Linked DNA regions of Homo sapiens: region 2 is linked to region 1. Evidence: fine-mapped expression QTL. Tissue or cell type: monocytes. Region 1 holds a variant in brackets; the other region holds the start of a gene. All regions are shown on one strand. Distances are from middle to middle.

The links. PIP is the estimated chance that this variant, and not a neighbour inherited with it, causes the effect.
Region 2: SNAP91 starts here. The variant in region 1 is fine-mapped to the expression of SNAP91 in monocytes (Fairfax 2014, PIP 0.95).

The regions. Positions count from the first base shown.
Region 1 is chr6:83,764,825-83,771,028 of GRCh38, forward strand. No RefSeq gene overlaps it. Among named protein-coding and RNA genes, the nearest start is that of SNAP91, 59 kb to the left of the region's middle. The variant C/T (reference allele first, on the strand shown) is at 2,385.
Region 2 is chr6:83,706,848-83,711,847 of GRCh38, forward strand. It overlaps SNAP91 (synaptosome associated protein 91), which reads right to left and starts at 2,254. Exons shown (of 30, transcript NM_001242792.2): 1 at 1,998-2,254; 2 at 951-1,110. The coding sequence starts at 1,080. LOC105377879 (a long non-coding RNA gene) reads left to right here and starts at 2,595. Exons shown (of 3, transcript NR_136251.1): 1 at 2,595-2,872. RefSeq lists silencers at 1,223-1,517, 1,927-2,136, 2,467-2,526.

The sequences.
Region 1 (6,204 bases):
AATCAAAGTCTTGGTGGGTTTCTGGAATAGCCTTCTAGTTATTCTCTAGCCTGTGTATGCCCCCCACCCCACCCCCACAATTTTTTTTTGCTTATTTGATCAGTTATGAAGTCGTTTTAAAGTACAAAAGAGGAATTAAATATCATTGCAAAAGATTTTCTGAGAGTATTCACACTAATTCCCCAGAGGAAATTCTAGTTATGGTTTAGAAAACTAGGAATCGTGTCATTTCTCCATTTAAGTGGATTTAAGTGCATTTAAGTGGATGGAAATGGGGAAATAATAGTGTGTAGGTGTGATAAGTGTTCTTTCCTTTTTGTACCAAACAAAATAGGAGAGCTGTGTCTGTGATCTAAGGATGTATTTGCTTATTTGTTAGATTTCTAAAAATGTGCTGCTGGGTATTTATAAAAATAAGCATTGTAATTAAACAAACTAAATGGTATGGCTCTGTTGAACTGTGAGTTTTGTTTTCACACAGAAATGACTGCAGTCCTATTTAGGGGAGGGGTAGAGAATAAATGAGTAGGTTGTCCAGGTAACAAATATTACCACTGTCTGGGAAAAATGACTGCCTCCATTAACTTAGCAGTATATGAAGTGACTTTGAAAGGATTAGCTACTGCAGCAGGTTGGAATTTTATAGAGACTCAATCTCTGTCTCCCTCACTTTTTCCCTCCGCCCCAGCTTTGACCTTCCATACTTACATTCCGGCTCCTTTGACCTCCCTGACTCCCACAGTCTTGCCAACACAGCTTAACTACATGCAGAAGAACACCCATCTCCCAACAAAATCCCCACAAAAACTCGAATGAAAACTAGATGGTAAAATAATTCAAATGGGCAGAAAATAAGACCAATAAAGTCTGTCTGAAGCGGTGTGATATGGTTTGGCTGTGTCCCCACCCAAATCTCAGCTTGAATTATCATTCCCATAATTCCTACATGTCATGGGAATTGTCCCTGTGGGAGGTAATTTAATCGTGGGGGCGGGTCTTTCCCACACTGTTTTCCTGTTAGTGAATAAGAGATCTGATGGTTTTATAAAGGGGAGTTCCCCTGCACACGCAATCCTGCCTGTGGCCATGTAAGATGTGCCTTTCTCCTCTTTCGCTTTCTGCCATGATTGTGAGGCCTCCCCAGCTATGTGACACTGTGAGTCCATTAAACCTCTTTTTCTTTATAAATTACCCAGTTTAGGGTATGTCTTTATTAGCAGCGTAAGAATAGACTAATGCAAGATGCTATAATGTTTCATTTGGGGTTGTTTAGAACTAGATGTGGGCCTTGGAGTGTGAGCTCCCTGGGGACTGAGGAGATCCTAGGAGTTAGAAAAAAATCATTGGAAAAATTGAAAGCAAACTTGAGAGTTTTTAGAGAAGGTTTCAAAACATGAAGAAGTAGTTACAACATAAATAACTTTGAGCCTCTGAACCAGGGATATGTAATTGGTGATAATTTTATGAACAAAGTTGATAAACGTTGTTAAAAAGTTTAACAATTTAACAAATTGTTAAACTGTAACAAAAAGTTACAGTTGAAATAGATTTAAGCAATGAAATGAATATGACCTGGAAATGGGGGTGAACCTGTAGCTCAAAGAGAAGAAATTTCGCTTTCCTATTAATAAGGAGGCTGGGAGAATTGGTTCTGATTTTCAAGGAAGATGCAAGTACACAGAAATTAGGAAAGGGCCTATGAAACTGCCATAAAATGCCATCACATTTGTCGACTTATGCCAAAAATAATGTATCGCTCCAAACTCATGAGGCTGTAACTCACGTGCTTTACAGGTAGTAAAATGTTTGTGCATCCCATACAACTGACTAAAGAAATGGGGAAAGGACAGTGTGAGAACACGAAGGATCATGCTCCAAGGAAACAGTCTCGTCAGGGGAATCTTCTGGTCTACTGGGTGTTAGACATAGAAGGTAAACTAGGTGAAACTGCTGAAAGCCTTTTTGCAGCTGTATTTTGCCATCTTATATGGCTGTGACATAGCAGCCAAGACAAAGATTGTTTACCTAGCTTCAAAGAAAGTCCAATTTGGTTGGCTGCAAGAATTCCATGTGTAACCTTGTGTAAGTGTTTTGACCTCTAGGGCATGATTTACAGCTTTGCCTTTTTTGTAGTCTTTGCATTGCCTCAGCCCAATAGGAATCCCCTGGGCCCTGATGTCAGCAGTCTAGGATTTTCAGACAAACAAGTGTTTCTTGGCTGTCACGAACCATGTTAAATTGTTCCCAACTGCGCTTCTGTGAAACCATGAAGCATTATATCAGACCATTAGATGTACTGATCCTCTGTCCCACCCCATCTTGCTTGCTGGTCTCTATGAAGCTGGTACTGATGTGCTCAGCTATTGTTCTTCCTACTGTGCCTT[C/T]CCTGTTGGGTAACCTGAATTCACAGTTTCACTTCCTTTCCAGAAACGAACCAGAAATATTTTGTTCATTTGTGGTGAATGAAGTGCCTGACGAGAAAGAGGAATGTAGCTTAATTCCAGTGTTGAATGTGGCTCTTGAGGCCAGTATATGCTAAAACTCAGAATAAGGATCCCTTTCCAATTCTTTCTCTCTTCTCATCCTTTGTGGTTAGTTATACTAGAGACAAATCAGTTGGCAGGGAGTCATTAAGGCTGGAGATTAAGCTACACTTCTAGGCAGGAGGATAACTGCTAATGACCCTCTAAATTCCACTTTTCTAGCCCTAAACACTAATTATTTTAAATATTTACTGTTTCATATATATTTACTGTTTAATATTAAATATTTACTGTTTAAAATATAATTATTTTAAAATAAAATTATTGTTTTGCTGCTTGCATGCTGGCAAGTGAAAGCACATCTAGGAGATCATGCAGGTGAGATGGGCCAGAGGGACCTCCAAAAGAAAATAGCCCAAGTTACATGTGTCCCTACCTTTGCTGTTGACCATAGACAGTGAAATCTATAAATCTGTGTGGAGCCTTCTCTGATTCTTGCAGAGTTTGGGCTCACACTGAGTTCATTAAAGCCTTGCTGATGGGCTCATTTTTTGCTAATCCCACTGTAGTTATATTTTTCTACCCTGCTCTTCTGCCTCAAAGCTACAGAAAGTGCTTGGGTGTCATGGAGGGGTTGCTCTTTGATCACTCTCTTCTCTTTGTCTATAGTAGGAAATTAACAAATGTTGACTGAATGTGCGAGTGAGTGAATGTTAGGGATTTCTGGACAATATCAGTCAAGGGAATGTGAAAGAGCAGAGCAGCCAAGGAAGGAAAATAGGGCTTGGAAGAATGGACTGGAAGACAGGTCCAACGGTAAACAGATTTGAGGAATACAAATGGATAAGGTTTTGTAAGGAGGGTTAGCAAGTTTGTAAAACAGTGCTCCCTAGATGCTAAAAATGAAGCCGTAACCTCTCCCAGCTTCTTCTCATCTGCTTGTGCACACCAATGGTAAGACATAGGGAAGAAGAAGTAGGTATTTGACTAGTACTTGTGTTGGGGGTGGGCTTAGAAAGTATTCAAGGGGGTAAAGCCACCAGACCTCTAGTCACTCTTCCTTTCACATCTTGAGTTTGTATGCATTGATTCTCTTTCCTTAGGACTTCTCAAGTCCATCTCTTCTCCATTCCGATGGCATGCCTTAATTCCAATCCTCACGTCATTTCTTACCTTGAAGCCTAGAGTGATCTTCTAATTCATTTCTTAGACTTCAGTAGTACCCGTCCAATCCACTGCCAACACTGCTACCAGAGAGATCTTTATAAAACAAAAATCCAATTGTATTACTGCCTTACTGAAAATTATTTAGTGGTCACATTGTCCTCCAAACTTGGGGGCTGCAAGACACTTTATGATCTTCCCTCACCTACCTCTTCAGCCTATTTCTTGCCAGGCCCCTAGCATTGCTGAACCACCTGCAGTCCCAGGGATTTACAGTGAATTTCTAACCTCTGTTCCTTTCTACAAATGGCTCCATCTGCCAGGAATCCTCTGTGTTCTTCCTCTTCATCTTTGCCAACCTCCTACTCCCATCACTGAGGTGACTCTTACTTATTCTTTTAGACATTGTTCAGGCATCATCTTACCTGAGAAGTCTCTCTGGAATCCCCATCTTCCTTTCCTCTCCTGGATGATTAGCTTCTTGAAAGTAGAGACTGAGGCTAGAATAGTAATGGGTACGTGGTGGGTATTCAGTAGCTATTTGAAAAAAGAAATGAGAGAAAAATAGAAGACTATACTGAGATATTGATCATTGCCTGCCCTGCTCATAGCCCTTTCTGTATCCATGTGATCCTATCCCTCAGCCTGAGTGGATTAGGACCATCAATGGCCTGGCTTGAAAAGACCAGCTGAGCCAATCAGATTTATTTATTGGTATTTTGGAGTTGGGGAATGAGAAACTGAGTGAATTAGAAAAGACAACTGGAGTTGAAGGTATGATGTAGAGTCAGGATATAGAGGCATGGTGGAAATGGAAATTATAGGAAGAAGAAGTTAGTTAATAGATGCGAATTGAGCAAATGCACACAGAAAAACAAAGATGTCATGAGAGAAAGGTCATATGAGAGACAGAGAGAGAGAGAGAGAGAGAGAGAGAGAGAGAATCTTCTGTTGTTCCTAACACTTTTTCTTGGGTGGGTTCCTGCAAAATCTGTTTTGTTTTGGGGGGTGATTTTTTTTTTTTGACAGTGTCTCACTTTGTCACCCAGGCTGGAGTGCAGTGAGCCATCTTGGCTCACTGCAGCCTTGACCTCACAGGCTGGAGTGATCCTCCTGCTTCAGCCTGCTAACTAGCTGGGACTACAGACACACGCCACCACACCCAGCTAAGTTTTGAATTTTTTGTAGAGGTGGAGTTTTGCCATGTTGCCCAGGCTGGTCTCCTGGACTCAAGGGATCTGCCTGCCTCAGCCTCTCAAAGTGCTTCTATTACAGATTTGAGCCACTGCAGCTGGCCTTTTTTTTTTTTTTTTCCCTTCTTCTTCTTTTTGAGTCAGGGTCTCACTCTGTCGCCCAGGCTGGAGTGCAGTGGCCTGATCTCAGCTCACTGCAACCTGCAACTCCATGGCTCAAGCAATTCTCCAGCCTCAGCCTCCTGAGTAGCTGAGACCACAGGCACATGCCACCATACTGAGGTAAAATCTCTGGATTTTAACATTAAATCATTATGGGAACTAATATGAGCAAATTTCTGTTCTGAGTATGTAAAGGAGTCTAAACTGAAATAGCAAGAGAAGAGAGAAAGGGAGAGAGGAAGAGAAGAGGGAAAGAAAAGAGCAAATAAGGCTGGTTCTAGACCACCAACTTCCCTTTTCCCCTAGGCTTCTGTTTGCTTGGGATTTACTCCATGCCAGAAAGGAACAAGGAAACCCATTCCCTCTCCACTAGCCCTGACCAGGGAGGAAGTCTGCCCAGGGTTTGACATCCATAATTTCTCCATGCCTATGGGCCCACCTTGGTCACTCACTGCTCCATAGCATTGTCATTGTGAATTATGCACAAATAAACAGAGGTCTGAAGAAACACCATAAATCCCTGGTGCTAACATAAAGAAATTAATTAAGAAAGTTAAAAATGTTAAATATCTTATTGAACCCCAAACACAGTTCACAAAAACAAAACTTCAGTAACAAAAAAAAATTCGGTCAAAGATATATTTTTGATCTTAAGAAATTGATTAATAAATGTTTTTAAAAATATGCATGAATTAAATATCAATGCTATCAAAAAAAGTTGCAAAATAAATGAGAGACAAAAATTATTTTGTTTCTAGTTATGTATCTGAACAATTGTTTTATTGGTTGCTTGTTTGGTTGAAACTTAATAATTTATTATGCAAAATGGACATGAGGATTTATAATGCCAAGAAATAGAACTCTGTTTTGCTCTTTTTTGGATTTCTCAAAAGGAATACCTTGAAAGAATGTCTTATAAGGGTGTTCAAAATATTCTGAGCTACTTATTGGTAAACAAAAATTTATATACTTGGATGAGATGCCAAAAAATTGAAAAAAATGAAGTCATATTTTTTCTTGTAGTGGGAAGTATGGCTAATATTTTAATACATGTATAGGCATTTATCATAATTGCTTGTTAGATATTTAATACATTTATCATAACATAAAAATGTATGATAAAGTGTTAGATGCTGGCACAAATTCATTAATTCTGTGTGATAGGTGTCATGGAAAGACTTTCTTGGAAAAAAAAATTCTTC
Region 2 (5,000 bases), 59 kb before region 1:
TGCTGAACATACACTCATATAGCCTGACTTATGAGAAACCTCACCACCCAAAGCAGGTGAAAGCCTTTTTCTTTTCTAAGTGCCTCTGTTTATCCTTCGGTGACAAAAGATTTACTGTTAATTAAGGTATTTCAGAAATATATAGATTCCAGAGTAGAATAAAGCCTTTTCCATCAAATAACCAGTTACAAAAATAATATTAAGAATTAAACGGTTTCATCTAAAATTGCACCATCTCAGATGCTGGGGAAGTACATCCATTTTGTGACCATAGCATAGTCATCTCACCCAGCATTTTCTGAGAATGGGACAAAGTGTGCCAGGATGTGTAAAATGAAATTGCCATAGCTATGAAGTCCAATTTCCTCATTCAGTACCTTGAATTTATTTCAGTTTGGTATGGTAACATACCTCACACACACACACACACACCCATACTCACAAAAACAATCCTCAGGAGCAACACTTAAAAAGATTATACTACCTTAGAACTATCTGAAATGTATTTAGGAAAGAACTAGGGTGACAAGTTTGACCTTCCATAAATTCATCTTTTTTTTTTTTGACTGTGCAACCTCTAATTTCCTCTAATTTGGAGAAGGGAGGGTGGGTGGAGAAAGAAAAAAAGGTGAAAAACATCTAATTCAGTGTGTACAATCTCTCTCTTGTGTGTGTGTATATACATATGCGTGTGTGTGTGTGTGTGTGTGTGTATTTTTCCCCCTCCACCAAGACCTTGGAGGTCAATAAGAGGAAAAAATGGCTCACAAGACAAGGTTTCATGGCTAACCCAAGGGAACACCTTCACAGCTGAAGAATTTCAGCTCAGGGGCAACCTGGCTGGGAGTATCAGAGGCCACAGCATTATGGACCAAGAGCGCAGGCCGCACCACCAGCATCCCAGGCGCCTCTGCCGTGCGCATGTCCCTCTTATATAAAGAGATGCTTACAGTCCAGGTGCTTTTTCTTGGGGCCCATTACTTCATGAGTAGTGGCTTTGCAGACCGCTCTTGCTACAGCAGAGCCTGTAACGCTGTACTGAGCGGCGGCGATCCGATCCGTGAGCGTTTGGCCCGACATCTTCTGTGGTCGCGTCTACCGCCTCCTCTTCTGCAGGAAACAAGGGGAGACGGTCCGGCTTTAATCCGCAGACCCTACCCTCCAAGCACCCAGGCCTTGCCTCCTCCAGCCGCGCGGCGGCTCTCTCCTCCTCCATCCCCACCCTGGCACCACCTCTCGGAGCCAGCAACGCGCCAAGCCCCGCTCCTGCGATGCGGTCCAGGGAGTCTTGGCCGTGAGTAGGGCCGTCACGGAACCCCAGCGTGGGCTCCAGTCGCAGCATCGTGACACCGTCCCCATTCTCCCCCGGCCCCCACATAGGGCCAGACTCACCCCCTGGGGACCCCCCTGTCAATCAGCACTTTCCCCGCAACCTGACCCGCGGGTGCTGGACTAGCCACAACGTGCGTTGGGGTTATTCCCTGGGCGCCGCACCCACCGGTGCCCATCTCCCACCTCAGCAGACTTTCCTCCTAGCAGCCCGCAGGCTTCGGGGAATGCATCGGATACCCAAGCCCTGGCTGCCTCCCTCCTCCTCCTCGCGCTGCTGCAGCAAAGGGCTCGTCCTCCCTCAGTCGCGAAGGAGATTATCCTAGCGTTGCGCCATGTTATGCCCTCGCCTCCCCTTCCTTCCTCGCCGCCGGCTCCAAAGCCTCGCCGAGGCCCATCGCCCGGGCCCCTTCCCCCCGGTTCCAAATCCCTGCCGCAGGGGCCGCCCGGGAGCTCTGCGGAGGCGCCGGAGTCTTGGGGCGCCTCACCCTTCCTGGCTTTGGAGAGGAGCCGGGCTGACAGCGAAGCCCAGTCCCCCGCCCGCCCTGGAGCGCTCCGCGGAGCTGTCACTCGGCCGCTGCCCTTCTCCGCACCCTGGGATTATCCTCTGCGGATCCCCGCGAGACCCTGGCGCGGGGAGGGGGCCGAGTACGGCCGCGGGTACTCACCCCGCCCCTGAGCGGCGCCGCCCGCCGCAGGATGAGCGGAGCCCGGGCCGCCGAGGGAAGCCGCGCCGGTGGATGTGTGCGACCGCGCGTAGCCCCGGTGCCCCCGGGCGCAAAGTCTCCAGCCCTGGCCGGGCCCCGCTCCTCAGCTCCGCGGTCCCGGCGCCCACCGCCCCTGGCCCCTGGCCCCAGAAGCCAGTACCCGCCCGCCGCCGCCTCTTCTGCCAGCGCCGCCGCGTCTCTCTAGCGCTCCGAGCTGCGTCCCCATCCCCGCCCCCACCTCAGCTGTGGCTCCTCCGACGAGTCAGGTGACGGCGGCGGACAAACCCGGACGAGCCCTCGGCGGAGCGCCTCGCGGCCCCCTCCCAGCTACTCACACACACCGCCCCCCGGGGCCGGGAGCTTAAAGGCGAGGGGGCGCCTCGCGCAAGCATCCCCGGCAAGCCGGCGGGGAGAAGAAGGAGGCGGGGAGGCCGACACCCACCCAGCCAGCGGCTCTCCGCTGGGCGCCGGGCCGCCCCTCCGCTGCTGGCGCCGCACCCGGCACGCACTGGGCTCGCGCACCACGCACACCTGCCCGCCGACTGCGGGGGGAGCCCTGGGCGTTGGGGGCGTTGGCCAAGACGGGCGAGTGGGCTTCTCGGGTTCTACTCTGTGAAGGCCAAGGCAAGGGCGTCGTCGCGCGCTGCCTGGCGGAGCCCAGCCCCTTCCCCACACTGTCGCTGACACGCCCGCCTGTCAAAGGCTCCGAGGCCCAGATGAGCAGGGCGATTTTAAATGTCAGATCCTGCCGGCCATCCGCGACCGTCACCTGTGCGTCTTCAGCTCCTCAGGCTCCTCCGCTTGTCTCAGTTACAACTGGGAGCCCGGGTGGGCAGGTAATTCTAGCCACTTTAGTCTTAAACGGATACTGAGGTCTGCTGAAGGGAGAATAATTAACACAGCCGTTAATCGAGTCCCAGATTACCTTCGACAGTAATCATTTGCGTGCATAAAGAAAACCCTTTGTACCCTTAAGAAGTAATTTCTGCCAATTAAATATAGTGTTGGAACGTCCGTCAATTGTATGTCAAGTGTATATTCGAATAGTAAGCAGGAATTTCTAAACAGGGATGTGGAGTTGGTTAATAGCTTCACGTGTTGACATTTTCAAAGGTTGTTATTTATGTTCACCTTTTTTTTTAATTCTCACAGTAGCATGAAGATCAAAACTATATTTGTGAGCTTTCCTGGCATTTTTTCTCCTTGCTTCGGGTGGCTTCTGCTCGGCCTTGAAGCCATATATCGATACCTATCGATCTCAACGTTTTGTTATATATTCCTCTCTTTCACCTGGTACAGTGTTCAGTATGCAGTCATGATTTCCTAACTACTGAGACTGATTCTAGGACTAATTGGAAGCTTAATGACTAAAGAGAGACAGCTTAAGAGCACTATTGTCTCAAGTACTAGTCTTACCATATTTACAAGGGAAATAAAAACGCAATTCTATTAAAAAAACTTGTACTCCAGTTTTATAGCAGCTTAATATAATGGCCCCAAACTGGAGGAAAGCCAAATGTTATTCTACTAGTAAATGAATAAACAAAATATGGTATATCCACATAATGGAATACTACTTAGCAATAACAAGAAACAAACTAATACCATTCATGAATCTCAAATTCATTAGACGAAGGGAAAGAAGCTCTATCAAAAATTCTACTTATTATTTTGATTTCATTTATGTAACATTCTGGAAAAGTCAAAACTATAGAAACAGAAAACACATCAGGTGCCGAGTCAGGTGACGGTGGCATTGGGGGAGGGGACTGCAAAGGGGCAGAAGGAAACTTTTTGGAGAGATGGAAATGTTTTATATCGTGACGGTGATGATGATTATACAGCTGCATGTATTTCTCAAAACTCATCAATTTGTACACTTAAAATTGGCGAATTTTGTTGTTTGTTAATTATACCTCAATATAATCTGATAGAGTTGGGAGTGGCAATATTAATATCAAAGTAGGTTTTACAATAAGGAATATTAATAGCAATAAACAGGCACATTTCATAATGAAAAATTCATTAAGAGCATGGAACAATTCTACTTGTTTGTATATCTAAGAACAGAGCTTCAAAGTAGGACGAAGCAAAACCTAATAGCATTAAAAGGAGAAACAGGCAAATCCACAATTATACTTCAGGATTTCAGCACTTTTCTCTATGTAATAAATAGGACAAGTAGACAGGAAACCTGTAAGGGTATAGATGACTTGAAATAGCCCTGTAGGCCGGACGCGGTTGGCTCATGCTTGTAATCCCAGCACTTTGGGAGGCCGAGCCAGGCAGATCATGAGGTTAGGAGATCAAGACCATCCTGGCTAACACGGTGAAACCCCGTCTCTACTAAAAATACAAAAAAAAAAAAAAATTAGCTGGGCGTGGTGGTGGGTGCCTGTAGCCCCAGCTACTCAGGAGGCTGAGGCAGGAGAATGGCGTGAACCCGGGAGGCGGAGCTTGCAGTGAGCGGACATCGCGCCACTGCACTTCAGCTGGGGTGACAGAGCAAGACTCTGTCTCACAAAAAAAAAAAAAAAGAAAGAAATAGTCCTGCAGACCAACTTCACCTAATTGACATTTATAAAATAGTCCACCCAACAGTAGTGGAATACTTTCTTAAAGTGTGCATGGAATATTCTCCAGGATTGACCATACTGACTGATCCTAAGCCATGAAGCTAGTCTCAATAAATTTAAAAGGATTATAATCATACACATTATGTTCTCTTACCACAGTGGAATTTAACTAAAAATCGGTGACAGATAGATATATGGAAATCTCTAAATATTTGGTAATTAAACAACACATTCCAAATAACCCATAGGTCTAATTTTCTCATAAGAAAATTGGAAATTTATTTGAACTAAATAATAATGAAAATCCAACATATCAAAATTTGTGGGTTGCAGGCAAAGTGGTGATTAGAGGCAAATTTATAGCATTAAAATGCTTAGGAATGAAGAA